Regions from separate parts of the Homo sapiens genome. Here regions 1, 2, 3, 4 and 6 are each reported to be linked to region 5. The links are microRNA targets in miRTarBase. Many come from high-throughput screens and were not tested one by one. Region 5 holds a microRNA gene; each other region holds the end of a gene's coding sequence.
The links. The annotated mature microRNA hsa-miR-33a-3p reads CAAUGUUUCCACAGUGCAUCAC and lies in region 5 at 1,643-1,664, shown strand. An mRNA with a match to its seed (bases 2 to 7 or 8) in the 3' UTR can be bound and repressed. Matches are read on the target gene's strand: a 7mer-m8 pairs with bases 2 to 8, a 7mer-A1 pairs with bases 2 to 7 and ends in A, and an 8mer does both.

Region 1: the mRNA of GDNF is a reported target of hsa-miR-33a-3p. The part of its 3' UTR that is shown has no 7-base or 8-base seed match.
Region 2: the mRNA of RHBDL3 is a reported target of hsa-miR-33a-3p. Seed matches in the 3' UTR shown: 7mer-m8 at 1,222-1,228.
Region 3: the mRNA of COXFA4L3 is a reported target of hsa-miR-33a-3p. Seed matches in the 3' UTR shown: 7mer-m8 at 540-546.
Region 4: the mRNA of CASZ1 is a reported target of hsa-miR-33a-3p. Seed matches in the 3' UTR shown: 7mer-m8 at 2,138-2,144.
Region 6: miRTarBase lists HNRNPR as a target of hsa-miR-33a-3p. Seed matches in the 3' UTR shown: 8mer at 1,226-1,233, 8mer at 1,260-1,267, 7mer-m8 at 1,789-1,795, 7mer-m8 at 2,501-2,507 and 8mer at 2,920-2,927.

The regions. Positions count from the first base shown.
Region 1 is chr5:37,811,070-37,816,132 of GRCh38, forward strand. GDNF (glial cell derived neurotrophic factor) reads right to left here. Exons shown (of 3, transcript NM_000514.4): 3 at 1,608-5,063. The coding sequence ends at 4,582. Among named protein-coding and RNA genes, the nearest start is that of GDNF-AS1, 26 kb to the right of the region's middle.
Region 2 is chr17:32,320,890-32,325,961 of GRCh38, forward strand. It overlaps RHBDL3 (rhomboid like 3), which reads left to right. Exons shown (of 9, transcript NM_138328.3): 9 at 69-3,770. The coding sequence ends at 340. LOC124903980 (a long non-coding RNA gene) reads right to left here and starts at 4,529. Exons shown (of 2, transcript XR_007065711.1): 1 at 4,489-4,529; 2 at 3,670-3,885. RefSeq lists an enhancer at 1,741-2,620.
Region 3 is chr15:45,432,525-45,437,587 of GRCh38, forward strand. COXFA4L3 (cytochrome c oxidase associated subunit FA4L3) reads left to right here. Exons shown (of 5, transcript NM_197955.3): 5 at 424-816. The coding sequence ends at 492. It overlaps MIR147B (microRNA 147b), which reads left to right and starts at 526; the gene lies at 526-605. LOC107987223 (a long non-coding RNA gene) reads right to left here. Exons shown (of 2, transcript XR_001751510.2): 2 at 945-1,626.
Region 4 is chr1:10,634,230-10,639,301 of GRCh38, reverse strand. It overlaps CASZ1 (castor zinc finger 1), which reads left to right. Exons shown (of 21, transcript NM_001079843.3): 21 at 1-2,698. The coding sequence ends at 360. Among named protein-coding and RNA genes, the nearest start is that of CASZ1, 160 kb to the left of the region's middle. RefSeq lists an enhancer at 3,380-4,342.
Region 5 is chr22:41,899,347-41,904,418 of GRCh38, forward strand. It overlaps MIR33A (microRNA 33a), which reads left to right and starts at 1,598; the gene lies at 1,598-1,666. It overlaps SREBF2 (sterol regulatory element binding transcription factor 2), which reads left to right. Exons shown (of 19, transcript NM_004599.4): 16 at 984-1,152; 17 at 3,624-3,809.
Region 6 is chr1:23,305,944-23,311,015 of GRCh38, reverse strand. It overlaps HNRNPR (heterogeneous nuclear ribonucleoprotein R), which reads left to right. Exons shown (of 11, transcript NM_005826.5): 11 at 1-5,072. The coding sequence ends at 562. Among named protein-coding and RNA genes, the nearest start is that of LINC01355, 23 kb to the right of the region's middle.

The DNA.
Region 1 (5,063 bases), not on the chromosome of region 5:
ATTTCAGAGCTGGAGGCCAACAGCATGGCCTTCCCTCTGGGGATCGCAGTGAGGGGTGGCGCGCACTCAGGGCTGCAGACCAGCAAAGCACCAGCCCAAGAAGGACGGGGGAGCAAGGTGCAGGCGCCCCCAGGCTGCTGGGGACTTCCCAGCTCTCAGCACATTCTCCTTTTCTTGGTTAAGGAAGTTTCTAAAGTTGACCACTGGTTAATCGTTTTGTTATTCATGCTGAGCAAGAAACCAGGGTCCAAATACCGTGTGTGTGTGTGTGTGTGTGTGTGTGTGTGTGTGTGTGTGTGTGTGTTGTGTGTTTGGGGAGGGGTGCCCTCCCAGTAGGGAGCTGCCCAGTAGTTTCTGCCTCTTATTAATCTCTAGTACAGCTCGTGACTCACCATGAAACTCACAGGAACACGCAAGATGGCCCAAAATAGTTTCCAGGGTGGTCACCAGGTGTGATGAGAAAGAAGACAAAACAATGAACCCATGGATCCATGGTCACGTCTACATGGGGAATTCTGCACACGACACCCTCCCCTGGACTGTGAAACAATCATTGGCCCAATAAAGGCTCTGATAAGCTCTACAGTTATATTTTAAACCTTAAAGCATGGGTTGATGCTATTTAACTCAGTATTTTCCAAAGTTATTTGATCAGAGAACCATCCTGTCCTCCTCCCTTTTTTTTTTTTTAAATTTGAGGAGCATCTCACTGGGTAAGTAATCCTGGACACACTTTGGGAAAATAGCTCTAAAAAGGGAGAGGAGGTAAGCAGGAGTTTTACCATCTTATGTTCCCGCTCCAAGTCACTGACTTTGGACTGGAATTTTGGCTTGGAGAAAACGCAGCTGGCCTCAGCACCACCCTGGAGCCTCTTCCAGCCAGTCCTGGCAGAAGGACTCTGAATGCCTGAACCCACAGGTTGGTACCCGTGACTCCACCAAGTCTCCACGCAGGGACGGCGTGCATCGGGAAGAGGGGGCATTTCAGGCAAAGGCTAGTGCAGCACAAATGCCATCCATGGGGCAGCCTAGGCTGGGGCCATGCAGAAGAGCCATAGAGCACCATGCAAGGCCGCCTTTTGATAGTCACAAGGCAGTCTGTGACGTGACTCAGTTTCATACAAGCTGCTTCTTCTGCCTGGGACGCTCCTGATCTGTTGGCACTGTTTCTTAACTTCGGTCTTAAAGTCATTTCTAATTAAAGCAAGCTCCCCTGTTAGTGTCTATATTATAGGATCCTGTTTGTATTCTTTTAGCGTTTCTCAACACAGGGATCACTACATATTTTACTTTTTTGAATGTTGTCTGTCTCCCCGCAAATAAAATAACTCCAGGAGGACAGCGGTTTTTGCTTTGGTCACCATTAGAGCCCTGGTGCCAGGAACAGTGCCTGGCACAGTGTAGGCACACCATAAGGGTTTGTTGAATGAATAAGAACAATTTTGCAAGTTTTGTCCCTCCTGAGTGGGTGATTGGTTGCTGGGAGTTGATAGGCAAGGCCACTGACCATCCAGTGGGCTGTGTGGTAAGAAGGGGGTGATTCCTAAGAAATACTTGTGGATGGCTGCCTGGCCCAGTGCATGCAAGGAAGTACAGAAGTACAGAGAGCAATAGAAATGAGTTTTTATTTGTAAAAAGTTACAAAATGATATTGTACAAAAATAAAGTCTGTAGAGAACTTTGGTTTTATAACACAAACGACCAAGACAGATCAGAGAAGTCAGAACTTCCAAACAAGTGCACTCCTTACGGTATCAGATGGTGATCGCAATGATAAAGAAAAATCACAAACTTTACCCTTTTGTGGATTTGGTGGAGCAACTTGCTTCCATTAAAACCTGCTTGTGGTGTGTAGGTGATGCCGGGAACGAGCTATTGACACCCCTTGGATCCTACAGCTTTTTTGGGCAGGGACTCTCCATGGGGAGTTGTTGGGGGGGGTCACTGAGGTTGAAGCCTGGGAACAGTGGCCATCGCACTGCCAAGGTTCTCTGAATGGGACAGATGCCCCTGGGGCCACATCCAAATTGTGCTCCACGAATGACTGGATGGCTGGGGTTTGTCACTGTTTCGAGCAGTCTGAATTCTCAGCAAGATCCCAAGACAGTGTGAGAGGGAAGGCCTTTCCTCCATTTCCCAGGCGAGCAAGGGGAGCAGAAAGGACAGAGAAGGGCAGAACCATGAAGAATTTGGGTATTTTGGGGGAAGGGGATCAGATGTCTGGTAACTGCTGCTTCTTGTTACTATGATTATTTGATGGAGGCCAGTATTTCATTTAATTGCTAAATCTGTCATAGTTTTATACTAGTAGCCACTAAGGTAGGTAGTAATAGATTATCTCCTTAATGAAAATCCCTTTTATGAAATGCGTAACAAGCTGTAATACAGGGCCTAGTGTGTCATACATGTGTTGGCTGCCCGATAAATTCACAATCTAGGGCATGGAGGAGGTGGCTGTTCCCGCCCCTATGCTTCCTCCTGCTCCAACCTCTTTTTTTTTTTTTTTTTTTTTTTGAGACAGGGTACCGCACTGTCACTTAGGCTGGAGTGCAGTGGCATGATCACAGCTCACTGCAGCCTCGACCTTCTGGACTCAAGTGATCCTCCTTCAGCCTCTTGAGTAGCTGGGACCACAGGTGTGCACCATCATGCCTGCCTAATTTTTAAAGTTTCTGTAGAGACAGGGTCTCCCTATGTTGCCCAAGCTGGTCTCAAACTCCTGGGTTCAAGAGATCCTCCCACCTTGGCTTTCCAAAGTGTTGGGATTATGGGTGTGAGCCGCTGCACTGGCCCCGACCACCTTCATTTAAAGGCAGCACGCTCCTAAGTATGAGGCTCCATGTGTGTGGCTGTGGCTGGTCCCAATATGGCTTCCTCAGCACCCTTCTCAGCCATCTGCTCCCCAGGGAGCTGTCAGGTGTTTGGGTATATAGGAGCAGCAGCTGTTGACCCCCGGTGACAGCCCAGGGGTTGTACAGGACCTGGTAGACCCTACCTCTGGAAGGCCCCTGTGTCTCCCGGGCTGCACTGGGCAGCCAGCATATTCTCGGGAGGGCAGTGGGTGGGCAGGGATGGAGGGAGTCGGTAGAACGGCAGCTACCTGACAGCATTGTCGACATTACTTTTAGGTCAGCATTAAATCCAGGACTACCTACTAAAAGGAACTGAACCTTTTCTACATATGGTTATGCATAGTACAGATAGGTATACGTGGAGGGGACTAAGAGCTTAAAGACAACAGGAAGTGGAGCCCACGACATTTCTGTTCAGCAATGGAGCAAGGAAGAAATAAAGTCAAGTGCCAGTGGTCTCTGCACGCTGCTCCAGGAAAGGGGGCTTGCCTGAGATGCTCCACAAATAAAAATTGGGAAAAATGCTGAAATCTGGGGAAAATTAATGACAAATTTTCTTAAAAAGGTAAAGTAAGTGATTTTTGCCTGGCAAAAAACTTTTTAATACTTTGAAAAGCATGGACCCTTGTTCCCAATTCAAATTTCCTTTTGTCACCTTTCTTTGCATTTTGCGAGCACATATACTTTGGCACCTTTGAAAAGAAACTTTAATAAATAAGGGAAAAAAGAGAAATTCATTAGTGAACGGTAATAAATAACAATAACTTAAATTTCAATAAATATCTTCTCTATATTTCTGTATCTGAAACAGATGCATTGCATCGAGTAGCTTCTCTGGTCACTGGTGACCACGCATCAACGGAGCTGGTTATGTAACATCTGTCTCTCTGTAAACCAACAGGCCTGAGGGGCTCTCCCTGCCCGGGGGCAGTTCGGGGCCTTCCCCGATTCTCTCCTACAAGAATGCTGGCGAAAACCACAACTCGTTTCCTGTTTCCAAGGACATAAAGGAAATACCTTCAGGTTTGTGTTTAATCATGAGCACAGCCTTTTTGGTTCCTAGCCAACTTCTTCCCACCCCACACACCGTGATGGAAATCAATCACCAACCGTTGGCAAAAATGCTGGTTGTAGTAAACCTCGGGCCTCAACTTTCAAATGCAAAGGTGATTATCTCTTGTATCTTTGCTTTTTTTTTCCCCTCTCCTTTCCAGGGTATGTCTCCACTGAGTGACAGAAAAATAAACCTCTTACTTTCAGCAGTAAAACGTAATAACAAGGAACAACACCAGGATCTCTGTTTCCCTGGTGTCTTCGGACACATGAAAACAAATCACAGGAGATACACTGGTTTGGTTCAAGTGCATCCACCGCAACCGCGCCGGTAATCAGTGATGGTGGACTGTATCAGCTGAAATGGTGGCAATAGCCAACCAGGAACATCAGCCCTGAGCTTCTAGTGACATCGGCTGCCATCCTGGAGAATCCAGAGGGCTGTTTTCTCTCTCTCCTGTCCAGTTGTCTGTAGCTGGATCTCCCTCTACCAGGCTCCCATGATGGCTGCCTTCCTCCTCCTCCTCCTCCTCCTCCTCCTCCTCCTCTTCTTCTTCCTCCTCCTCCGCCTCCTTGGTCCTCATCTTCCATTCTGGGCAAACATTTCCTGGGAACCTTGGTCCCTTTCTTTGCACTGTAGCAGGAATGCAATACACAGCAGTCTCTGGAGCCGGAGTCAGATACATCCACACCTTTTAGCGGAATGCTTTCTTAGAATATGGTAAACCAGGTTATCATCTAAAAACGACAGGTCATCATCAAAGGCGATGGGTCTGCAACATGCCTGCCCTACTTTGTCACTCACCAGCCTTCTATTTCTGGATAAGTTTTTCAATATTTTGTCGTACGTTGTCTCAGCTGCATCGCAAGAGCCGCTGCAGTACCTAAAAATCAGTTCCTCCTTGGTTTCATAGCCCAGACCCAAGTCAGTGACATTTAAATGTATTGCAGTTAAGACACAACCCCGGTTTTTGCCCCTCTGGCCTCTCCGACCTTTTCCTCTGGAATTCTCTGGGTTGGCAGCTGCAGCCTGCCGATTCCGCTCTCTTCTAGGAAGCACTGCCATTTGTTTATCTGGTGACCTTTTCAGTCTTTTAATGGTGGCTTGAATAAAATCCATGACATCATCGAACTGATCAGGATAATCCTCTGGCATAT
Region 2 (5,072 bases), not on the chromosome of region 5:
TGAAGTGAAGGCCCTCAGCCCCTGCTCAGGGCCCTCCTGTGACATCTCTCTGCTTCCTCCCCTTGCAGTGAGCATGGAGTTTGGGCGGGCCGTGTGGCTCCGCTTCCACCCGTCGGCCTATCCCCCGTGCCCTCACCCAAGCTTTGTGGCGCACTTGGGTGGCGTGGCCGTGGGCATCACCCTGGGCGTGGTGGTCCTGAGGAACTACGAGCAGAGGCTCCAGGACCAGTCACTGTGGTGGATTTTTGTGGCCATGTACACCGTCTTCGTGCTGTTCGCTGTCTTCTGGAACATCTTTGCCTACACCCTGCTGGACTTAAAGCTGCCGCCTCCCCCCTGAGGGCTGGAGGCCCAAGGTCGGGGAGGGGAGGGAAAAGCAGCACCCACAGGGAGCGCCTGCGAGGTTTCTTCTCATCACCAGCTCAGCTAGGCCGGGCAGACAAGGACAGAAGACTCTGGGCCACTGTAATGTTTGTGTTTAGATTTGGACACACAGTGGAGACCCTTTTCTGAAAGGCATCTGGCGGAGGAGTTGATGTGGCTGCTGTCGTTTTTCTCGGCTGCTCTGATGACATCGGGCCAGGGTGAAGGTCTGGGGTGGGGTGTGAGAGTGGCCCTCCCTCACCTGGGCTGGGCTTCTTCCATGGGGCCAGGGGGTGCCCCCTCACTGCTGCGGATTGAGCAGCAGCTTCTTCCTCCTCCTCTACCCTCAGAGACCCTAAGAGACATGGGAAGGCTCGAAGGTTGTTGCGTCCAGGCATGGCCCCTCTCTAGCTCAGAAATAATTGCAGGCCATGTGGTGTCTCCTTGACACCTGCTGTGTCTGGGGCTCCAGTAAGAAGAGGGCCTACTGGACATGTCAGCTGTGACCTGGCTGAAACCAGGGTGCCCTCCTGGGCTGGTTGGTGTGCACCGGGGCATGATCTGTTGTGCCTGGGTTGGGCAGAGCAGGGAGCCTGTAGGCTCTAGGACCCCTCTTGTGCTGGGGGTACCCAGTGAGAGGGACCCATGCAGGGGGAATAAACTTCATTCCAAGTTCCACCCTGGAGAAGACAGACCCAGGACCAGCTTCAGACTTCTCCCTCCCTTTCTTCCAGGATATTGGCATCTCACACGGGTGCCCCAGCCTCCATGCCCAGCCTTGTTTTAGGGTCTTTTTCTTTCCTTTTGCTGCCCTGACACTACTTTGTGCCTCTCTTTGGTTATGGAGACAGTGTTTTGAAACATTCATGCGTGTGTGTGTGTGTGTGCGTATATGTGTGTATGTGATGGGAAAGGTAACTGAGGCACGACAGCGCCTGCAGAGAAGGCATGGAGGATGCAGGGGGCCCATGTGGGCATCCGTGAGAGGTGGCAGACCGTGGTGTGCTGTGGTTGCTGAATGTCCTTGCTTTGACAAAGCCTGCCCCCTTCCTTCCCATCTCCTGTCCCTTCCACACCTGCCCCTGAGCATCACTGACCGGTGGCAGAATGGCCCTGCTGGAGGGAGAGCTCAAGCCCTCCAAGGATCCCTGGATGCTGAGGTTTGCCAGGTTCAGCTCTTGTTTCCGTCTGAGATGGCCTTCATATCCAAAAAGGTTCCATCCTATCTCCCTTAGGAGAGAAAGAGCTTTGGGGGCGCAAGAGAGGCTGGGGTAGGAATGTTGAGGCCATGTGTCCATTTAAGTTAGGGGGACAGGAGGCTACAGGAAGAGGAATTCCAGTTTAGTTGGAAAACTTTGCCTCAGGAGAATTGTTGGGTGCATGGATGAACCTCAGAGGGAGGGCAGCCAGTAGCCTCGGAGGCTTGGATGCGGGAGAGAACATGGTGGTTATCAAATCCACCCCACCCCATTACACAGGTGAGAAAACAAGATGGAGGGAATGACCCTCCTAACAGGAGCTGGTGCAGGCCCCGAATGGAGGGCATGAGGATGACCTTTGACAAAAGATGACACTCCCTTTATCGTGCTCTTGGAATTCTCAACCACTGACAGCCCAGAAGAACAAAGAACGCCAGGCCTGGGAGGAGGCAGGGGGGCTGGGCGTGTCCAGAAACAGGGGCAGGAGTGTGGGAACGGTCTTCCTCCAGCCTGGTGCCCATCCTGGCCCTTGAGTGTAGCAGGGTCCAGGGTCAGTCAGGCCAGGCATTTGGGGTCTTGGGCCACAGTGGCTTCCCATCCTGGTGACTACATGTAAATGGGCTCACTCACTCACTGGCAGGCGAGGCCCAGCCATACCGCATCTTGGCCCACTGCTAAATAGATTGCCCTGGCCTCATCCACATATGTAGTTCCCTAGGTCCTGCTCCCCTGCACCAGTGCCATGCTGAGGGCCGCAGCCTGTGGCACTGTGGGCCCACGCCTTTGGCGGTGTTGCGTCAGCCTGGGGCGTCTTGTGTGTGCCCTGCCCACCGTTCTCTGCCCTAGTGATAGAAAGATGTAGATGGAAGTCAGTGCCTCAGAGGAGGAGGCTCTGAGGCTGTGGAGCTGGGCTCAGGGAAGACCAGGGGAGGATGCAGAAGGAGTCAGGACATTGCTGCCTCTGCCTGGGCTGCAGCCGCACTAAGCTGAGCGATGAGGTCCTTTCCTGGAGGGATGGAGAATCCCCTCCAGATTCCTGTCCTGGCCCCTGGGGATTCTGTGGTGTGGGTGGAATGAGCAGAGTGCCACCTCTGTCTGGTATGACCTGGAGAGGGGGCTTCCTCTCTTAGGGGTGAGAAAGCATTGAACTAGAAGATTCTAGAAATCCCTCATAGAAGCACTCAGCTCCCTCGGGGACTCCCAGGGAAGCTTGTTACTGAGAAGGACAGTGGAGGCGGAATCGTGTCTCCCACCATGTTAAGTGTGTCCTCTGCTGCCAAGGACCCTCGTCTACACCTTAGACCACCAGCCCCAGCTGTTCTCTGTCAGCACACCCACCTCCATCCCCTCTCCCAACCATGACTTCCAAGCGGGGCCACAGGGTGGGGTCATAGGGTCACTTCACCTGACCCAGGCCTCTCCCCAGGTCAGGAGGCAGCTGTCTGGTCAGAGGGGTTCTCTTTGTGGCATCTGGCTTTCTCCTCAGCAGGTCCCACCACCCTCTCAGCAGCACTTCCCCATGGCCAAGGCTGGCCGTGTCCTCTGTGCCTCTTTCCTTGTCTGAGGTGGCTGCCAGCCCAGGGGGTGGTGTGTAAATCTTCAGGCTGGTGGAGGTAGGTTGGCCTTTTATCCACAGGATACAGAAACTGAAAGCTGGGGAATCCCCAAACAGCAGCCATAGACTCACTGGCTCTCATTAAACGGGAGAGGAATCACAGAAACTGGGGAAGGGAAAACAAACCTTCAAAGGAGAAATTTCGCTTTAATGACACCATTCATCATTCGTTTTTTAATTAGGAAAAGCTCCCTAATGAGGCTCTTTTGCCAGCTAATAGGACTCTCGATTTCCATGAGAACCATTCTTGCCCAGAGGATTAGGGGAGCTGTTGCTCACCACACCAGGATCTTCCCCCAGCGTCCAATTTAATTTGCAAATACGTAATGCAGATTCCCTGGGTGCCGTGAAAGCCTTTCCTGGCATCATTCATGTTGCTCCCCGTGCTGGCTGGAAAGCACGGTTCTCCTCTGCCTTAAAAACAGTGCCCAACAGTGAACTGCCCCTCCGAGGACTTGAGTAAGTGGAAAAAACAAAACACAGACTGCAATGTTTGTTTCTAAGTATTTTTGTATTGTGTACATTCTGTATATTTTTGTTGTAACATATTATTTGAGCACAGATTCCATTAAATATTTTTTTTCTTTTTCCAAGCCATTGGTTATTCAGGAAGTGACCTGAAGGGCTGGCATTAGGGCCTGTTTCATCTGGGTCTGGGTCAGGATGGGTGGGAGAGGGTGAACAGCAGCGGTGGTGGATCCAGGATTTCTATAAAATACAGATTGGGGCATCAGTGCTTAGCACCAGTCTGTAGCTGTGTGCATCTTACTTAACTTTTCTCAAATCACTGAACTCTTTTGAGTGGTTGATGAAAGCTGTGATTTCTCTTCCCATAAAAATGTGTATGTAGGACGGGCATGGTGGCTCACGCCTGTAATCCCAGCACTTTGGGAGGCCGAGGCGTGTGGATCACCTGAGGTCAGGAGTTCAAGACCAGCCTGGCCAACATGATGAAACTCCGTCTATACTAAAAATACAAAAAATTAGCTGGGTGTGGTGGCGCACGCCTGTAATCCCAGCTACTCAGGAGGCTAAGGCAAGAGAATCGCTTGAACCATGGAGGCAGAGGTTGCAGTGAGCCGATATTGCACCACTGCACTCCAGCGTGGTAACAGAGTGAGACTCCGTCTCAAACAAAACAAAACAAAAAAAACCAGGCCAGGCGCATTGGCTCACGCCTGTAATCCCAGCACTTTGGGACGCCGAAGTGGGCGGATCATGAGGTCAGGAGTTCGAGACCAGCCTGGCCAACACAGTTAAATCCCGTCTCTACTAAAAATGCAAAAATTAACTGGGCGCTGTGATGGGCACCTGTAATCCCAGCTACTCGGGAGGCTGAGGCAGGAGAATCGCTTGAACCCTGGAGGCGAAGGTTGCAGTGAGCCGAGATCATGCCACTAAACTCCAGCCTGGGCGACAGAACTAGACTCTGTCTCAAAATAAAAAAAAAAAAAAAAAAGGAAAAGAAAAGAAAATTTAAATGCTGCAGAATCTATCCAAGAACAAACTTTAGAGTGCCATTAAGGCTAAAGGCCAAAGAACCCACTTCTGTTTACAGTGTGGAGATCCAACTTCCCTAGAAGGAGAAATCAGGATCCTCTCTGAGCATCAGTGCTCTTATAGGTCAACTTCAGGCTAAAGTACCTGAGCCATTTAAAGGCAAGCTCCTGCCAGGCGCAGTAGCTCATGCCTGTAATCCCAGCACTTTGGGAGGCTGAGGCAGGCAGATCACTTGAGGCCAGAAGTTCGAGACCAGCCTGGCCAACATGAAAAAACCACATCTCTACTAATAATACAAAAAAACTGCCAGGCGCAGTGGCTCACGCCTGTAATCCCAATACTTTGGGAGGCTGAGGCGGGCAGATCACGAGGTCAGGAGTTCCAGACCAGCCTGA
Region 3 (5,063 bases), not on the chromosome of region 5:
TGTAGTAGAACGCACCTGTAAACCCAGCTACTGGAGAGGCTGAGGCACGAAAATTGCTTGAACATGGGAGGCGGAGGCTGCAGTGAGTTGCAGTTGTGCCACTGCACTCCAGCCTGGGCAACACAGCAAGACTGTCTTAAAAAAAAATCTGGATACTGCTAAGTGAAAGTAGGGCACATGTGTTTGATCTTTCCCTCTGATCTCATAACACTTAGGAGCCCAAGGGCTTTGTAAAAAGATGGACTGATAGAAACCAGCTCACATTACTATTTTGTGCATGTTTTAGATATGGAAAGAGGTAGGTACAAACACAATGGTGATGCTTTTTCTAAAGGGGAGTGTGGACAAATCCGAAAGAGGGACATGCAAATGAAAGTCAAATTTTTAACAAAAGGTTTTTTTTTTTTCCTTTTTTCTCTTCAGCTTATAACAATCAACCAACAATGGAAACCCATTGAAGAGTTGCAAAATGTCCAAAGGGTGACCAAATGACGAGCCCTCGCCTCTTTCTTCTGAAGAGTACTCTATAAATCTAGTGGAAACATTTCTGCACAAACTAGATTCTGGACACCAGTGTGCGGAAATGCTTCTGCTACATTTTTAGGGTTTGTCTACATTTTTTGGGCTCTGGATAAGGAATTAAAGGAGTGCAGCAATAACTGCACTGTCTAAAAGTTTGTGCTTATTTTCTTGTAAATTTGAATATTGCATATTGAAATTTTTGTTTATGATCTATGAATGTTTTTCTTAAAATTTACAAAGCTTTGTAAATTAGATTTTCTTTAATAAAATGCCATTTGTGCAAGATTTCTCAAAGATTAGGTATATATTTAAATGGAAGAGAAAATATTTTTATGGGAGAAAAATACATTTGAACCATGAAATTTCATCTTTTAAATAACATCCAGTACAGATTTCTGTGTAAGCTTTTTTTTCCAAGTTCATTCATTCACTAGTAGTTTATTGAGCATCTACTATTTGCAGTATAGCTAACAAAGCCAAAATTTGGTGGGATACGAATAAAAGATGGTAAGTACAATGAGGAAAATGAAGTGGGGATGAGGTTGGAGACTCGCATGAGGACTGACCTTGGAGGAAGTGTAGGATTCTGGAGATGAATTGGAATGCAAGGCATACTGAGATCTGCCCTAAAGATGCCAAGCCAGGCTGGGCGCGTGGCTCACGCCTGTCATCCCAGCACTTTGGGAGGCTGAGGCGGGCAGATCACAAGGTCAGGAGATTGAGACCATCCTGGCTAACACAGTGAAACCCCGTCTCTACTAAAAATACAAAAAATTAGCTGGGCGTGGTGGCGGGCGCCTGTAGTCCCAGTTACTCGGGAGGCTGAGGCAGGAGAATGGCATGAACCCGGGAGGCAGAGCTTGCAGTGAGCTGAGATCACACCACTGCACTCCAGCCTGGGTGACAGAGTGAGACTCCGTCTCAAAAAAAAAAAAAAAATGCCAAGCCATACTGTGATGTTCCTGTGGAGGCTAGGGAGAGGAAGATGGGGAGCCTTGCCAGCGCTCTTCAGAGTTTGGGGCCACTCTTCCCTCTGGCCAATGGTAACTTGAAGGCTGAAGATACATTCATATCCAGCATGCCGCTGGGCTCCCCTGCCTGTCCCTAAAAATGAAATAAGAAGAAAGTTGCTTTTCATTAACTTTTTTTAAAAAAATGGAGATATAATTCACATGTCATAGTATTCACCCATTTAAATTGAACAATTCAGTGGTTTTTAGCGTATTCACAAAGTTGTGCAACCATCTCCATCTACTTTCAGAACATCTTCCTTACCCCAGAAAGAACTCTGTACCATTAGCAGTCATTTCCCTAGTCCCAACCCCTCTGCTCCCAGCCCCAGGGAAATACTAATAAACTGTCTCTATGGATTTGCCCATTCTGGACATCTCATGTAAATGGAATCAGGCAATATGTGACCTTTGGGTTTGGCTCCTTTAACTTGGTATAGTGTTTTTAAGAGTCATCTATGTTGTACCATGTTTATATTATCAGTATTTCATTACTTTTTCTGACAGTACTCTTCCAGTGTAAGGATATGCCATTTTTGTTCATTGGTAAGTTGATGAACATTTGGGTTGTTTCTACTTTTTGGCTATTATGAATAATGCTGCTATGAACAGCCATGTACAAATTTTTGTGTGGCCATATATTTTTGGTTCTCCTAAGTAGGTACCTAAGTTCGTTAACTTTTTTTTTTTTTTTTTTTTTTTTGAGACAGGGTCTTGCTGTGTCACCCAGACTAGACAGGCTGGAGTGCAGTGGCACCATCTCATAAACTTTGCCTCCTGGGCTCAAGCAATTCTCGTGCCTCAGCCTCCTGAGTAGCTGGGATTACAGGCATGCACCACCACCACACCTGGATAATTTTTGTATTTTTAGTAGAGGCAGGGTTTTTGCCATGTTGGCCAGGCTGGTCTTGAACTCCTGACCTCAAGTGATCCAACTGCCTGATCACTTGAGGAAAGGAGTGATCCCTTCCCTCCCCATTGGATCATGGCTAACACCCCTATAACAAAAGACAGGTTAACTAGAAAAAGCATAACACACTTATAGTTTACTTGACATGGTAGCCTTCAGAATGAAGACCCAAAGATATAGGGAAAACTGTTCATTTTTATGCTTATGTTCAATGAAAAGTCGATGTAGAAATATGATTGGACATGTAGAAATATGGACAAAAAGGATATGGTCCTAATGCTATCAGAATAGACTACATGGGGAAGCTCACCAAGGCCTGTCTGCAGCATTTCCTTCTGCTGGGTGTGGGGGTGGGATCCCTCTGGAATGAGTGTCTTAATTTCTTTATGGCCAGCTGTTACATAGAAAGGTGGGGGAAATTTAAGAGCAATATATTTAGGTTTTATGGCTGGCTTTCAGGAAACGGGATTCTGGCTTCTATGGCCGGTCTTGGAGAAGAGGAATTCTAGTTTCTATGGCTCACCTGGGGAAGAATCAGGGTCAACAGACAGGAGGGCAGAGAAACTTTGCTTCTGCGGCCTTCATTTGGGGTATCATTTTTTGGGCTCCAGCGTTACCTTCACAGCAATAACAAATAACTAGGTTTTGCCAGGAACTTGGCAACTCTGAGAGGATTAAAGCAAGACTGCTGCCAACTTCTGTTGCTTCCTTATCACCTCAAGTCGTCTCAGATTAAAGTCTCTGATAGTTGATCTCAAGGAATTACACGTAGCAATTGGGAAGCACATTTTTATTTGCTTAAGCTTCTAAAGTCTAATGTAATGTCATTTGCACAAATAAAAATTAACGGTTGGTCAACTAAGAGAGCAAAGTATAGAGTGTTTTTCAAGGGATGACTGTGGCTTTCAACTTTAAAACACAAACCTGATTGAAATGTGGTGGTGTGAACATGGCAATGGGAGGTACTTTTCTGCAGGTTTAGGAGGGAGAGAGGCCAAAAGCAATGTTGATGCTTAAATTTCAAAAGATTTGGGTTTTGTTGTTGTGTTCTTAGCATTTCCTTCAAACATTTTATTTTGAAATTTTTCAAATATGCAGAGAAGTTGAAAGTTACTCACACTTCTTATCAATTAACATTGTGCCACATTTGCTGTATCTCCCTGTGTATGTATGCTTTTCAAAAATTAACTCGTTGAGGCCAGGCACAGTGGCTCATGCCTGTAATCCCAACACTTTGGGAGGCTGAGGCGGGCAGATGGCTTGAGCCCAGGAGTTTGAGACCAGTGTGGACAACATGGCGAAACATCTCCACTAAAAATGCAAAAATTAGCCAGGTGTGGTGGCACACACCTGTGGTCCCAGCTACTTGGGAGGCTGATGTGGGAGGATCACCTGACCCTGGGAGGTCAAGGCTGCAGACAGCCTTGATCTCACACCACTGCACTCCAGCCTGGGCAACCCAAGTGAGACCCTGTCTCAAAAAAAAAAAAAAAAAAAAGTGTTGAGAACAAGTTACAGACATGAGGCTTTTTTCCCTAAAAATTTAAGCATGTACTCACTGCCTAAGATAAAAGACATTGTAGCTGACTAGAATACCATTATCATCCCTAAGAAAGTTAACATTCATTCAATAATATCACCTATCATAAATATGATAGTGATATCATAAATATCACCTTTTTTTCCTCTAATTGTCTCAAAAATATCCTTTATATCTGTATTTTAAAATCCAGAATCATCTACTCCAAGGTTTACTTGTTGCATTTGTCTAAGTTGTACTGAGTACTTGACTGACTTGTGGTCATGAAAATGACTCCAAAGCAGCTTTTATAGAACGGCCATCTCTACAGATAACGAGAACATTACCCGGATAACATTCTCTTACATGCAGACTTTACAATTTTTTATTTACAATCTAATAATGATGTATTTTCATGTAGTTTATAAGAGGTTGTACAATTGATGAGCACTCACTATGTGCTAGACGCTGTGCTGGCCTTGAGGCTCTTACAGCTTAGGAAAGGGATACACACATGTAAACAGCATGAGAGCAATGCCAGGACAATAAAGCAAGGACAGGAGTAGGCACATGGTATGAAGGAAAGCTTCCCAAAGAAGGTGGATCCCTGAAAGTCTACTTCGGCTGATTTCTTGAAAAAAAAAAAAAAAAAATCATCATCATTACAAGTCAGCAAGGCAATTGAAGTAGAGGCACATTTTTACCAAGACAGAGCCACCTAAAGTAGCATGGTGTCTCTTGGAAACTTGGAGTAGATTAATACAGGGAATTTTTTTTTTTTTTTTTTTTTGAGACAGGGTCTCACTTTCATTGCCCAGGCTGGAGTGCAGTGGTGCAATTACAGCCCACTGCAGCCTCGACCTCCCCAGCTCAAGTGATCCTCCCACTCAGCCTCCTAAGTAGCTGGGACTATAGGCTAGAGACTGAGTTTCGGCATGTTGGCCAGGCTGGCCTCAAACTCCTCGCATCAAGCAATCCTCCTGCCTTCGCCTCTGAAATTGCTGGGATTACAGGCATAAGCCATCCTACCTGACCAATACAGAGTATTTTTAATATTAAGAGAGATAATTGGAGAAAAAGAAGTAGGTGGAATGTGTAGGAC
Region 4 (5,072 bases), not on the chromosome of region 5:
CTGGCGCTGGGCGACGCGGGCGACCCCGGCCCGCCCGACGCCGCCGCCCCCGGGCCGCGCGAGGGCGCCGCCGCCGCCGCCGCCGCAGCTGGGGAGTCCTCGCAGGAGGACGAGGAGGAGGAGCTGGAGCTGCCGGAGGAGGAGGCCGAAGACGACGAGGACGAGGACGACGACGAGGACGACGACGACGAGGACGACGACGAGGACGACGACGACGAGGACCTGCGCACCGACTCGGAGGAGTCGCTGCCCGAGGCGGCGGCGGAGGCGGCGGGCGCGGGCGCGCGGACCCCGGCCTTGGCGGCGCTGGCGGCCCTGGGCGCCCCCGGCCCCGCGCCCACTGCAGCCTCCTCGCCCTAGCGGCGCCCGCGGGTGGCCCTGGCGGCGGCCTCGGCCTCGGCCTCGGGAGCGGCGCCGCCCCGCGCGAAGCGGCCCCTGGGCAGAGCCCCGCGCCCCGCCGGTGCTTCCGGACCCCGAGTCCGTCTCAGGACAGAGGCGGGGACCCCTCTGGTGCTCCGCGGCCGAGGACACAGGCGGCGGCGGTGGCCCTGCTCTAGGGAGGCCGGGTCTCTTCAGGGAAACAGAAGGTGCTCTTGTCCCGGGGTAGGGAACCTAGGAGCAGGGGTCCCGGGCGAATGCGGCGCAGCTCCCGGCCGCTGCCCCGGCGCCCCTCCCCGCGGCCGATTCGGCCCCGCGACCATTGCTCAGGACTGGGACGGGCGCTGGGGGCCACCGGGACCCCCACCGCGCGCCACCAGGGCGGGGTGGCTCCTGGAGCCGCTGGCGGGGCCTCCCTCATGCAGCTAGGATCCTCCCCCCTGCCCAGGGGGAGACGGGCAGAAGGCAGTCAGCACGGGTGACACTACAGGGACCGTGGAGGAAGCCTCACGGGAGTAGCAGCCGCGGAGCTCCAGCTCAGCCCCACCCCAGGGCCCGGCTGCTCCCCCAGGCCTGGGTCGGGTCTGTTTGGCGACTCCCTGGCCCCAGCCTCCGCCCCAGGGAAACCGAGGCTGCGTCCAAAACCCAGAGTAGCCCGCTGGGGGCCGGGGCGGGGTCTCGGCCACCCTGGTGGTGCAAACAGGAAGGATGCGCCTGGTTTTGGCTTTAATGTTCAAAATGGAAAAAAATACAAGAAAGTTGTACAGTATTTTTCCTGTAAAGGTTATTATTCTACATAGAACAAAAAGGAAGAAAGCAGGCGTGGTGAGAGTGCAGACCCGCCTGGGCCCGGCCTGAGGTTGGAGGCTCAGTCCCGTTTATCCTGTGGGATTTGGTCCAGGGTTTTTGTAGAGGCCTTAACTGTTTGAGGCTGTCTGTCTTCACAATAGCACTGATGGGAGCTGCGTGATTCCAACTCTTAACTTGAATTTTGTAGAGACAAGAAAAAAGGACTATTACTGTTGATCCAAGTTTGTAGTTAATTTAACATTTGAGTTCTCTCTTGGTGATGCGTGTGGCTTTATAGGGCTTTTTTTTTTTTCCAGTTTGTTTTATTACTTTGTTTGGGATGCTTCTTCGCTGGTGCAGTCTACCCAGATTGGGTTCCCTTTGCAAAACATCCCCCTTCCTGGAGATGATGATGCCATCGAAGCCCGGGCCAGGGCCTGACCTGGCAGGCACACACCTGGCCAGTGGCTCTGAGGTCCCCGGGGACCGAGTCCCCTGCGAGGGCAGGCTGCCCGAGGCCACACCTGCCCACCTTCCCTACTCCAGGCCACCAGCTGGTGTCAGATTGGGCCACCGGGAGAGAACAGGCCTAGGAGGGAATGGAAGGCTGGCGGGGAGGCTGTCATCCAGAAGCCTCCTCCCCAGAGGTCTCCAGGAGGAACCTGGCTCAACTGGGGGGCAGTGGTTTACTTTTCCCTTTTTTCTTCCTTTCTTTTGTCCTCTCAGCTGCCCACAGCCAGAAAGCCAGGACCACCCGAACTGGACAGGGAGCAGGGAGGGAGGAGTGGTCGCACGGAGCGTACCTGATTCAACAGGAAATCAGTTATTTTCTAAAACAGCCCCTACCAGAGCCTCCTGAACTCTGTGGGCACCACGTGCTGCTGTGAGCATCTGCCCAGACAGTGACCCGCCACAGGCCCCGGGCGTCTGTGGAAGGAGTTTTGTAAAGGAAAAAAAAACACACACACACAAACATTTTTTCAATGTAGCAAAATCAAACTTAAAAAAAAAAAAGAAGAAAAGAAGAAGATGCCGACAGTGCGGAGTCTAGCCTTTTGTAAACTTCATATTGCACACTAGGACTATAAGCCATTGCTAGCTCATTTTGAATTTTAACGTGTAATTTTTGTTTTATTTTCTTTCTGTGGGGAAACAATGCTTGATCCACCAATGCTCTTTTTAATGTTTTATAACTATGTATGTGTATATATATAAATATCAAATAATATGTATGCACATATGTGTGTGTATATATCTATATGTATATACATATATAGATATATAGAGATATATAGAGAGGTTTTGAGACAAAAAAAATACAGAACGTGAAACCCGAGCTGAACAGCGTGTGCTCTGATTACTTGAATCTGGTCTCCTCGGCACCTGGTTATTAAGAACTGAATATTTTTCCACTTGAATTTAGTGCTATTAGAAATTTAATATATGTGTTTTATTTATTTGATTTTTTTTTTTTTTTTTGCATGACTGATGCAAGGTTTGACATTTTCACTCAATAAAAACTGGAAAAAAATCTATCAAGTTATCTTTTATTCTTAAAATCGCCCCCAATCGGCTGGCCATGACCCAGCTACACCGGTGGGGTGACGGGAGGAGTTGGGCACCCTTCGACCCTGGCAGGAAAAGCGGGGAACAGACCAGTTTTGTCCCCGGGCTGCTGGGGACAGAGGTAGGGGGCTCATTCCTGGCCTGGCCAGAAGGGTAGCCTCCTCCCCAGCCCTGCTTGAAGCCCCCACTTGGGGCTCAGGAGCCATCTTTGGGCAGAGCCATTTGACACCAAGGCCTGGGTCGTCGGACAAAGGCCCTGCAGCCTCCCAGGACCCCCACCCCAGCCAACCCTCTCCTCTCCTGGGCTGCTGGGCCGGCGTTGGCAGGGCCACCCTCCTGCCTCCTCCCTCGGCTCCTTCCTCCTTCCTGCAGGGACCTGCCCGGGCTGGGAACGGCGCGTACCCGGATCCAATCCGGATGCTGGCGCGACTCCTGCCTGGAGCACAGGGTGGCAGAGCCAGAAGGGGCCGATAATTCCTGGGTCCGTAGCCACCAGCCCAGAGCCTGAGCTGCCAGCCCTGGTGGCACCGTGGTTGGCTCCCTCGGAAGCACAGTGGCCGGAGTGTCCACCAGACCTAGCCTGGAGTACAGGCCTCCCAGGCGCTCCGAGAGTTTGTCTTGACACTTCCAACTGATGGCCGGCTCCTCACGACACCACATCGTGAGAATCACCTTGGCAGCCCCTCCCTGAGCTGGACTCCAGGTGGCCGGAGCTTCCTGGGACCTTGGGGAGGGGATGTGTGCGGGATCTGCCACATTCTTCCACGCTGAGGAGTCTTACCGGCTCATCACACCCCAGCCACAGGGATGTCACAACCACTTGCCCGATGAGGAAACAGGCAGACTTGGGGGCTGGAGAGGTTCGGTTATCGCAGCACGCTTCTCCCTCACTGAGCCTGGCACCAGCCGGCCAGGCACCAGGCACCAGGGACCAGGGACGGCAGGGGAGTGGCCTCAGCCCACAGCGCCCAGGCCTGTGTCATTTCCCACCGCAGAAGTGCGTCTCCAGCCCAGCCCCGGCGCGCGGGCACTCCCTTTCTTCTTTCCTCCTGGAATGCAGCCCACAGGCTATTTACATAAATATGTTTGTAACAGACATGAAAATATATACTTTTTTCTGTCTTATTAAAATGTTCAAGTTGGAACTCGCCTATTGTTTGCGGATATCTTGATTCTGTTAAATAAAACAGTGACTAATTTATGGGATAAAACACAAGTTCAACAAATTAAAACCATTATTGGAGCTTCCCAGGCCCTGGTGGGCCTCCCGTGGGGCCTGAAGCGAGGCAGGGAGCCAAGCCCTGAGCAGCCGGTGGGTGGGTGGTGCAGCCACAGAGCTCCCTCTAGGCTCCGGCACAGTGGGCAGCTCTCTGGGGCAGCACTGACTCCTGGGGCCCAGGGGAGGGAGAATGGGGACTCAGGGTGGTTTGCTGACCTTGGCCAGACCCCAAAACTGCCCCCTGGTCTTCTGGGCCTGGATGGACCACACCCAGGGTCAACCAACCTCACGACAAGCAGGGCCCCGAGTCCAGCCCAAGGAAGGGGAACGGGGACTCGGGGACCTCTCAGAGGCATCTCAAGGCCTCAGGACGCTGCACCCAGGCCAGCCCATGATGCCACATCCCAGGCCCCGCCCCAGAGGGTGGAGAGAAGCTCGTACCCCCACCAGGCATGTGTTGCCCACTCTGAGACCGCCCCCAAGAGCCGGGAGGGGGCCTGCAGCTGCGGGTTGGGATGGGCCCAGGTCCCACGGCACTCCCTGTGGCTTGTTGGACTCAGTAGGAAATGCAGTAAAGCATGCTTTCCTTCTGGGATTTAATTAGCTGTGGTGTGTGATGCTCCTACACCCAAACTGGGGCAAATTCAAGTGTTTTGCAACCTCCTGGAAAGGGCCAGAACCCGCCGCACAGGCTCAGGGCTGAGCTCAGGGGCCTGCCCACCTCCCACGGACCTGGCCCAGCAGGGGCGCCACCAGCAACCTGAGTCACCCGTGGGCGCCGGGCCTTGGCGCTCACGAAGCGGCCTTGCCCCAGCCTGGACATGGCGACAGGCAGCCCCCTTTCTGGGCAGCATACCAGGCCACTGGGCAAAGGCCAGCTGCCCATCCACTGTCACGGGAGGTGGCCCTGGCCCCACAGGTAGCGTTGGTCTAGGACCAGGGCTGGCAGCAGTGCCCTCTGAAGGGCTGGAATCCCAGAGCCTTGTCTGAGAATGAAGCAGCCAGGCCCCGGCCATCCTTGCTGGGAGGTGCCTCCGCACCCTCTGGGGCAGGTCAGGGAGGAATCGGCAGCTCCCAGGGGGCCCACAGCCAGCGCTGGAGCAGCTGGACCCAGTGGCTT
Region 5 (5,072 bases):
CTGCGTCTTGGGGGCATTCGGCACTAGTGATGGGCAGCCCTGCCTGCTGACTCCCCGGCTGTTTCTAATTGGATCTGAGTATTCTAAGAGAAACTGTAAAATGCTCCAAGACAGAAAGGCCCCACGAGGTCCTATCCTTAGAGCCAAGGCTGTAGCATTTCCTATCAAGCAGACCCTTAACCGGCGCACAGGAAGGAGCTGAGAAGAGTGAGTATACACAGGCTTGAAGTCCTTTGTTCCCTGAAGTAGATGTGACACCCTAATTTCATTGAAGTAGCCCCATTTGTAAGCACTCTGACTAGGTAAGCACCCAGCCCGGTATAGCATTCCACCTGTATGTGTGTCTCCCCCAGTCGATGTGCCTGAGGACACTGAGACTCAGCAGGTAAGTTGTCCAAAGTCACCTCGCTCCAGAGCAGCAGAGCTTCCATGGACAGCCAAGACACCCCTGCAGGCACTGCTGCCTGCTGGATTCACTTACCCCTGGGTCCCTCTGCTTTTCAGGGACTAGGATGCTATGAGAACCCTCCCCCATCCCTAGCCTCCCCTTCCACTCCCAGTCTCCTCTACAGAAAGAAGCTAACTAAGTATCTCCAGAGAGTTTAATACCACATCTCTGGGGGGGTGGTCCCTTAAAGAACGGGTACAACACCTTATTGTGGCCACTTTATAGGTAAGGAAACTGAGGCACACGTTGGAATGACTATCTTGGGTGGCTTCTTAGCAGCAGACGTGATGGTGAAGCCTGTGTCTCTGACTTCCAGCATTGAATGAAGGTGCTAAAGGGTGGGGCGCTAACCCTAGCTCAGGGCTGGCATTTCAGATCTGGAGCTGGTGGCATGGTGCCATAGTGGCAGCATTGGAGTCAACAGATGCACATGTCATATCAGTGTGGGGCGTGGCAGTCACTGGCTTGGGCCCCTCTGCCTGTCACGCAGGTGACACATAGTGACCTGCCTCTCGACTCCCTGTCACTGCTGCAGGAGCCCCCTGGTGAAGGCCATCTTCCATGCCTGCAGAGCCATGCATGCCTCACTCCCTGGGAAAGCAGATGGGCAGCAGAGTTCCTTCTGCCATTGCGAGAGGGCCAGTGGCCACCTATGGAGCAGCCTCAACGTCAGTGGGGCCACCTCTGACCCTGCCCTCAACCACGTGAGTGGGAGCTGAGTTGGCCCCTGGGGGAGGTGCTCTGCACTGGTTTACGAGAACACTCCCACTCACCTCATGCTGACCCTGCGGGTGGGGCCATCCGAAAGACAGAGAAACCAGGACAGCAGCCCCCTTTCAAAAAAGTTACGGCTTATTGGCCTAGGTGGACTCCTTTTTCATCCCTTTTCAGCCTCTGAGGCAAGTGTGTTTCTACCTGCACCTTTCTTAGGCTCCCAGAGTCCCAGGTCCTGCTGGCCCATAGCCTCTGTAAGCCCAGGTGCACCCCAGCTGGCCAGGGGTTCACCTGCATTTGCTCCAGCGGTTTGCGTGACTTCCCAGGCCTCTGCAGGCAGCCTTGGAGTGGGTTCCTGCCCCCTCGGGCACACAAACAGAGCTGAAGACCACCCTGGGCACCTCCTTGGCTGGCCGCATACCTCCTGGCGGGCAGCTGTGGTGCATTGTAGTTGCATTGCATGTTCTGGTGGTACCCATGCAATGTTTCCACAGTGCATCACAGAGGCCTGCCTGGCCCTCGAGAGACTGCCCTGACTGAAGGCCCTATCAGGTGGGGGAGGGGATCCTGATAGAGGGCACTGCTGCCACTGTTGGGGCCCAAGTCACAGCCATCCCAGGAAACAGGAGGGCACCCAGCTGAAAGTGGAGCATCACCTGGTCTACGGGGAACATGTCCTTAGCTCCAGAGTGGGAGGGACCGGGAGAGTCCTGGAGATTCAGATTCTCAGCCACTCCCTGGGGCTTGGTCTTAGCTGGCTAGGCTAGTACTTCAAGCTAGATATTGTCAGTGGACCTGGGCACTGGGATGAACCCAGGACAGCGTGGCAGCCCCTACAGGGACAGGCAATGTGCAGAAAAGGCCCAAACTGGCTGGACGCGGTGGCTCACACCTGTAATCCCAGCACTTTGGGAAGCTGAGGTGGGCAGATCACCTGAGGTCAGGAGTTCGAGACCAGCCTGACCAACATGGTGAAACCCCGTTTGTACTAAAAATACAAAAATAAGCCAGGTGTGGTGGCATGTATCTGTAATCCCAGCTACTCAGGAGGCTGAGGCAGAAGAATCACTTGAACCCAGGAGGTAGAGGTTGCAGTGAGTCGAGATTGCACCACTGCACTCCAGCCTGGGCAACAGAGCGAGACTCCATCTTTAAAAAAAAGCTGGTGGGGGTGCCCAAATGCCCTGGGCTGCCAAGACCAAAGGCAGATGGTGAGCCACATTTCACCTTCTCTTTTGGGCTTTCCATTAGTCTCTTCCGTATTTGTCTTCATGAGAGAACCAAACAGTACAGGCTCAGTTTGGGGAATGAGAGGCTTGCAGCCACCCTTTGGACTGGGGTTCCTTGGTAGCAGCTCTGTGGTAGGAAAGTGAGCCTAGAAGACAACGCCATGCAGCCTGATGGCCCTCGGAGGGCAGAATCCAGACATAGGCCTGCTGCCTCCATGCCCACAGGTGCTTCTGCAGCATGCACAGCTTAGAAGTGCCAGGTTTTGAGGAGAGGGATCCTTTTCCACATCCCCTTGAAGCACACAACAGCCAGAAAACAGTGTAGGCAAGGATCAAGGCCTTGTGCAGGGACAGGGCAGGGTCTTCCTCAGGCCCAGTGTCCTGGGAAGGAGGAAAGCCAGGGCTGGGTGAGATGAGGCTCAGCCTGAGGGAGTTCATCAGGACCGGAGGGCTGCTTGCGGCCCATCTCAACAAGGACTCCTCACTGCTCGGTGTCGTGCAGGTGTGCCACTGCGAGCCGGGTGGGCAGCCCAGCCCCATAGGTCGTAGGCAGAGAGTATGCATGGCCCACATGCAGTACCTTCTCATATGATACAACAGCCCTGTGATGGTGCCATTTACATTTTTTTGAATGAAGAAACTGAGGCTCAGAGAGACTAAGTCCTATGCCAGGGTCATGTAGCTAGTAAGTGGCAAAGCCGGGTCAGTAGGCCTAGTCCCCAAGCACTAAGGCACTCTGTGGTTCTGTCTTCTGAGACACCTGTCTCCCTCTCCCACTCCTCCTCCTCCTTCCCCCAGCCCCATCGACAGGCTCTGCTGCCACTTCAGGCTTTTCCTTGGTACCTTGTGGGTATCTCAGCCTCCTAGCCAGCCATGGTGGGACTCCCATGGGGTGGAAGAACCTGCGCCTTCAACCCACAAGGGTTTTATTTCTGCCCCTGCCACCTGCCTGTGCTGTATTCCCTATACAAGCTGCTGTCCCTGTCAGAGCCTTGCTTTCTCACCTGCAGAATGGGGAGGGCTTGTCTCCCACCTCCTGGGGCCATGGAAGGAACTGGTTCTCCCCTGAGCTGTTCCCTCACGTCCTGCGGAGTTCACCAGACTCTGGGGCTCTCCACTTCCTCCCAGAGCTGCTGAGTGTTGGTCTGGGGAGAGGCCTGGTAGGTGCTAGGATCCTTGCCTCAGGGATGGGCCAGTCACCTGTCTCCCCTCTCTCGTGGCTGACCCCACAGGTGGTCCAGCTGCTCACCTGTGACCTGCTACTGTCGCTACGGACAGCGCTCTGGCAAAAACAGGCCAGTGCCAGCCAGGCTGTGGGGGAGACCTACCACGCGTCAGGCGCTGAACTGGCGGGCTTCCAACGGGACCTGGGCAGCCTGCGCAGGCTGGCACACAGCTTCCGCCCAGCATACCGCAAGGTGAGGCCCAGCTGGCTGGTGGGGCAGGGCAGATTGGAGCCTGTGGGGCCTGAGCCCAGAACCCAGCATGGGCACCAGCATGTGGTTGTGGAGTTGGCCCTCTGAGGTCAGCCTGGTGACCTGTCGAGCACCTGCTTGGCTCGTGCCCAACACTGGGCTAGGCGCCATGTGTCCCTGTGTTCAGCACACATTGGTTGAGTGCCTGCTGTATGCCTGGCCCTGGAGCTCAGCAGGGAGCAGGCCACACTTTGCTGCCACAGACAGGGGCCAGCAGGGAGCTGTGCCTCCCCAGGCACATGCTGGGTGGGAGGGCTCTGAGGGCAATGGTGGCAAGTCAGGGCTCCTGGCCTGGTCCCGAGCTCCACGTTGACTTTCATTCTTTTTCACAGTAGCTAGAGGCTTCGGTTCTGCTGCTGGGTAACATCCCCTTGGCAGTGGCCACGTGATCTGAACTAAGTCACGGAGGAAAGTTCTATGACTGGGCTTGCCAGGCTCCAGCTATTTCCTTTTTTGTTTATTTGTATTGCTATATAATGTATTCAACATATTTGTACCTGTATTTTTTTCTAAAAATTTGAGTGAGATGACTCAAGTGTCATTGAGGGGGCACGGGCTGGGCTGGAAGAAGGCCTCAGAGCGAGGCTGCTGCCGTGGAGCTTGGGATTCAGCCCCCACACCCATCACCCTGAGGTGCTGCGGGGCCCACCCAGGGTTGCACTGTGGCCACTGTGTGCAGCAAGCCAAGACAGACACAACAGACAGTATCATCGGAGAGCCATTCCTTACTGTGGAGAAGAGGGCATGTACCCCAGGCCTGGAGCGGCACCCCTGCCTCCTGGAGCCCACTCTGGTCAGCTCTCTGGTCTGCTCACAGCATGGCTGGCATCAGTGGCCTTTTTTTCATAATAGATGGGGTCTTGCTATGTGGCCCAGGCTGGTCTCAAACCCCTAGCCTCAAGCTGTCCTCCTGCCTCGGCCTCCCAAAGTGCTGGGATTACAGGTGTGAGCCACCTCGCCTGGTCCAAAGGCCTCCTCTTAAATACCATTTCCATTCTGCTGCTCCCTGCTGAGAGCCCATCAGCGGCTCCCCATTGCCTACCAGGACCAGAATCCACTTGGCAGCACTGAAGACCCTCCCTGAAGACTGAGATATAAAGGCATCAAAAAGAGCTTGAGATTTTAAGAAATGACAGACCTCAGCCTTGCCCTTCACCCACCAGTGGCTCATACCTAAGCGCTGCAGACTTTACCCGCACACCTCTA
Region 6 (5,072 bases), not on the chromosome of region 5:
AGGTCGGGGTCGTGGTGGGGGGAGAGGTGGATATGGCTACCCTCCAGATTACTACGGCTATGAAGATTACTATGATGATTACTATGGTTATGATTATCACGACTATCGTGGAGGCTATGAAGATCCCTACTACGGCTATGATGATGGCTATGCAGTAAGAGGAAGAGGAGGAGGAAGGGGAGGGCGAGGTGCTCCACCACCACCAAGGGGGAGGGGAGCACCACCTCCAAGAGGTAGAGCTGGCTATTCACAGAGGGGGGCACCTTTGGGACCACCAAGAGGCTCTAGGGGTGGCAGAGGGGGTCCTGCTCAACAGCAGAGAGGCCGTGGTTCCCGTGGATCTCGGGGCAATCGTGGGGGCAATGTAGGAGGCAAGAGAAAGGCAGATGGGTACAACCAGCCTGATTCCAAGCGTCGTCAGACCAACAACCAACAGAACTGGGGTTCCCAACCCATCGCTCAGCAGCCGCTTCAGCAAGGTGGTGACTATTCTGGTAACTATGGTTACAATAATGACAACCAGGAATTTTATCAGGATACTTATGGGCAACAGTGGAAGTAGACAAGTAAGGGCTTGAAAATGATACTGGCAAGATACGATTGGCTCTAGATCTACATTCTTCAAAAAAAAAAATTGGCTTAACTGTTTCATCTTTAAGTAGCATTTTGCTGCCATTTGTATTGGGCTGAAGAAATCACTATTGTGTATATACTCAAGTCTTTTTATTTTTCCTCTTTTCATAAATGCTCTTGGACATTATTGGGCTTGCAGAGTTCCCTTATTCTGGGGATTACAATGCTTTTATCGTTTCAGGCTTCATTTTAGCTTCAAAACAAGCTGGGCACACTGTTAAATCATGATTTTGCAGAACCTTTGGTTTTGGACAGTTTCATTTTTTTGGATTTGGGATAGATTACATAGGAGTATGGAGTATGCTGTAAATAAAAATACAAGCTAGTGCTTTGTCTTAGTAGTTTTAAGAAATTAAAGCAAACAAATTTAAGTTTTCTTGTATTGAAAATAACCTATGATTGTATGTTTTGCATTCCTAGAAGTAGGTTAACTGTGTTTTTAAATTGTTATAACTTCACACCTTTTTGAAATCTGCCCTACAAAATTTGTTTGGCTTAAACGTCAAAAGCCGTGACAATTTGTTCTTTGATGTGATTGTATTTCCAATTTCTTGTTCATGTAAGATTTCAATAAAACTAAAAAATCTATTCAAAACATTACCTATTTCAAATTCAATTGTGTCCTAAAACATTATTTTATTCGTAATCCTTGCAAGGAATATTGTTTTCAAAGTATAACTGCCTATGTGAGTGATCAAATTCATGCAAAATTTCTTGTTTATTCCAACATGTGTTGTGGATATTAGACTGAGGATTAGTCTAAATTCAAGTATTTATTCCAATTAGCACTTTCATTGATTGGTGTTCTCTCATAGTCTCTTCTAATTTTGAAATTTTATCTTTTATTAAAAAAAAAAAAACAGGTTCATAGACTTTTGAGCATTCTTGCAGGCATTGGATAATTTGCATTAAAACAAATAAAATGTGGCTGGGAAAGCAGACTGCAATTTATTTTGACCCACATTCTTTATAAGGGATAATTTGTGACTGAAGACCTTATTTGCTGGATAAGTGAATGTACATACAGGGAAAATTGTTAGTACTGTGGCGTCAATTGCACTGCGGACTTTAGTTTTAGTGAAAATGATCGTGACTACCATTTCAGTTACTGGTTTAGGAATATAATTTCCTATTACTATGTAAATTTGCTTTGAGAAACATTCATGCCTTGTAAGAGAGGCTTAAAAATATCCAGTAGTAATACCTTTGACTTTCTGTTAACACTTCGTTTATTTTTATTTATCTGCTATCCCTGATGCCCAAATTTTTTGTTGGCCAAGACATAACATCTATTTCCCTATTTCCTTTAGAAATTCTGATTTATTCTAATGACTTTTTTGCTTGAGAATGAGAGGAACAAAAGAATCTAAGCTTTACGGTACAGAAAAGTGAATCACTTTCAAATTACTATTAAGTTTTCCCCTCCATCTTATTCTTACGTGGTTCTCAAATGTTTTTATAATGATAAAAATATCAGAAGCCATTGGGGAATAATTAAAATGGATACACCATTATTCTGTGTTTTGTTCCTGTTTGGTGTCTTTGTGATAGGAATATTAGATTTCAAAATCATAAGCCACTTAATTCCGTGTAATCTTGGCTAGATCATATTGGGTTTCATGGCTTCTTTTCATTTCAATTTAAGATTACTATTTACTGATGAAAGTCAATATATTTCATTTCTTTTTCAAAGTACACTCATTACACAGTATAGTCATTTAACAGACCTTATTGATATTTTAGTTTTTTGGAAACTGATAAAGGAATTATGGTCTGTTGTATGATAGTTTTGAGTTAACATGGGTATTTCTTTGGTAAGACAGATCCAGTTGTTTTTCTTATGCCCATGTATGCAAGTAAAGACACCAAACATTCTTTAAATGCTGCTTTTAAACTTTGAAAGTACAATTTGAAGTTGTAACTATACATCTAATTAGACTTAAGTAAAACCCTGATTTTTTTCCTGGAAAGAACAAAATCTACAAATAAAATTTGAGTTGTTTGTATTTCTTAATTAGGTGTTACAAGCTACAAAGTTGTCATAAAGAATGCTAAGAATGGGGATAGAAATGATTCTGAGAAAACAAACCCTCGCAAAAACATAAGATTAAAACTTGGGTTCCATGTCAAAATCCTTTCCTTTAATTGCAAATTATATTTTGAATTTTAAAGTGGCCACCTCCTCCTCTGTCCTTTTCACTAATTAAAAATATATTTGCAGAGGTACCCTCTAATATTTGGTTTATAGGTTTTGTGGCTATTTTAAATTGTAAAGCATAATCCTATAAACATTAAAACTCAAGAGCTTTTCTTCTTTCATGTCTTGTAAATTAACACTGTAGCAGCATTCAGAGAAAATAGATTCAGAGCTCAACTTTTCACATAAATAAATCTAACAGTGTAATATATAAACCTGAAAAATGTCAGTTGAGGGAGGTCTTTATTCTAGATTGGCATTTTTTTTTTTTTAAATTAGGTACAAATTATGAGTGTAAGGAATTTGGTTTCCTGCTCTCCTGTCTTTCCATCTTTTTTGTTCCCCAAGCTAATTGATTTGGCTTTATTTATGAGCCTGTTACAGTAAAGTGTGTGTTGGGAAATATATTGAGGTATAGAGCTATTCTTTGTAGGTACCCTGGTGAGACCGATACAAATATGCCCCTCCCCATAATGGAATACTAATTTTTATTTGATCACTCATTTATAGCAGTTGCTTAAATGTATGTATTTATATGAAGGTATTTTAATTTTTAAGAGCAAAAAAGTTCTAATAAGTTGCCAGATTTCTAATAAATGCAGGTTTATTTGGTGAAAAGATAAGGAAAATGAGTTATGATTCTGTAGTTTTTTTAAAATGAGTTCAGCATAATTGTTTTTCAGGTTTTTTTAGTTACTGGGGTTATTCTGCATAAGAAAGCCCAATGCTTTCTGATAGTAGGAGATAATTTTTCTCTCTTTTGACTTTGAAATCTGACTTAGGAGATGAATTCTTTTTAAAAAGGTCAGCATGCAAAAAAATAAATTATATATTTTAAATTCTAAAAGAGAAGGGACATAAAATTTCACTCCTAGCATAAAGCCATATAATATTATTCTTGAAACTCATTACATCATTTGCCTCCTGCCCATTTGAATATAATCATACCTACGTTTTATTAATTGTGCATTTGTAAAACCAAACCCTTCCAGTAAATACTTGCTATAAGGCTATTGCTTGTCAATTATCAAGGCTTCTAAATATGTTAAAACTTGTCATTTTGATTTTTCAAAGATAATTTTATTATACTGAGCTACCAATATTCTTAAAGAAAACTAACCAAAGTTAATATTAGTGTAGTCCATTATTATGTGGACAATTATTATGTGGAATCTCTTAAGTGAGCAACTAAGAAAAAGCCTTATAGAAAGACTACACTGGATTTATAAGTGTGTTTATGTTTCTCTAAGAATGGGAGCTTCTGTTAACTTAGGGGTGGAGTTGTTCTGAGGAAACCAGTAGATTGGATGACTGACTGGAGAATCCAGAATAACAAATCCATTAGCCAGACATGTTTACTTTTATATTAGAAGTTTGTTGATTAGGTCTTAATTTTCAAACGCAAACACCAAGCTTTAAAAATATTGCATATACAATGTATTGGTCAGCAATTTAATAATATTTAATTTGAAGTTAATTATTGTTAATCCTTCTAGAAAAGTTTTTTTTCTTTAAATAAAAGTACATATATATACTTTTTTATTTAGAGGTTACCAGAAGCTCTGGTTTTGTTTTGTTTTGTTTTGTTTTTTTGTTTTTTTAATCATTTTCAGATGTTATCCAGAAATCTGCAAGTGTACTTTTCCTGTTTTAACTCCTTCCTTTTATCACCTGACTATCAGGGAAGCGAGGTTGAGGCTGCCCTGACCTGACATGTCATGATGTCGACTTGCTAGGTGGGGTTCGCTGGGGACGATAACCAGTGGAATTGTTGGTAAGAACTTTTTTTTCCTATTTTTTTTTTTATCAGTAGTGGGGCATTAAGTGTGGGAGAATGCCCATATCCTATAAGTGGGCAATTATGTCAGCCTTGTAGAAAAATAGGACTTTAATATTAAATTATTTTGTTCTTAATAGGAACATATAATAACACTTCACTTACTTTTAAATTGGTAGCAGATCAGCAGGAAAGGCCTGCAAGTATGAAGTAATGAAATACTCAGGGTATATTTTAAGTGAGCAAAATAGACACCTTATAATCTTAAAAAGTCTCTTGGAGAGACAATAAATTTGCTTTAACTGTCATTTCAGTCTAGTATTATATTTTCTATATTTTGTTGGATAGATTAACATATAATGCATCTTAAAGAGATATTTATTGCACACTAATTTTAGTGAAAACAAGAAGACATTGATAGAATGGAGGGCTTAAACACCAAAGATACTATTTTTAAAAATCTTC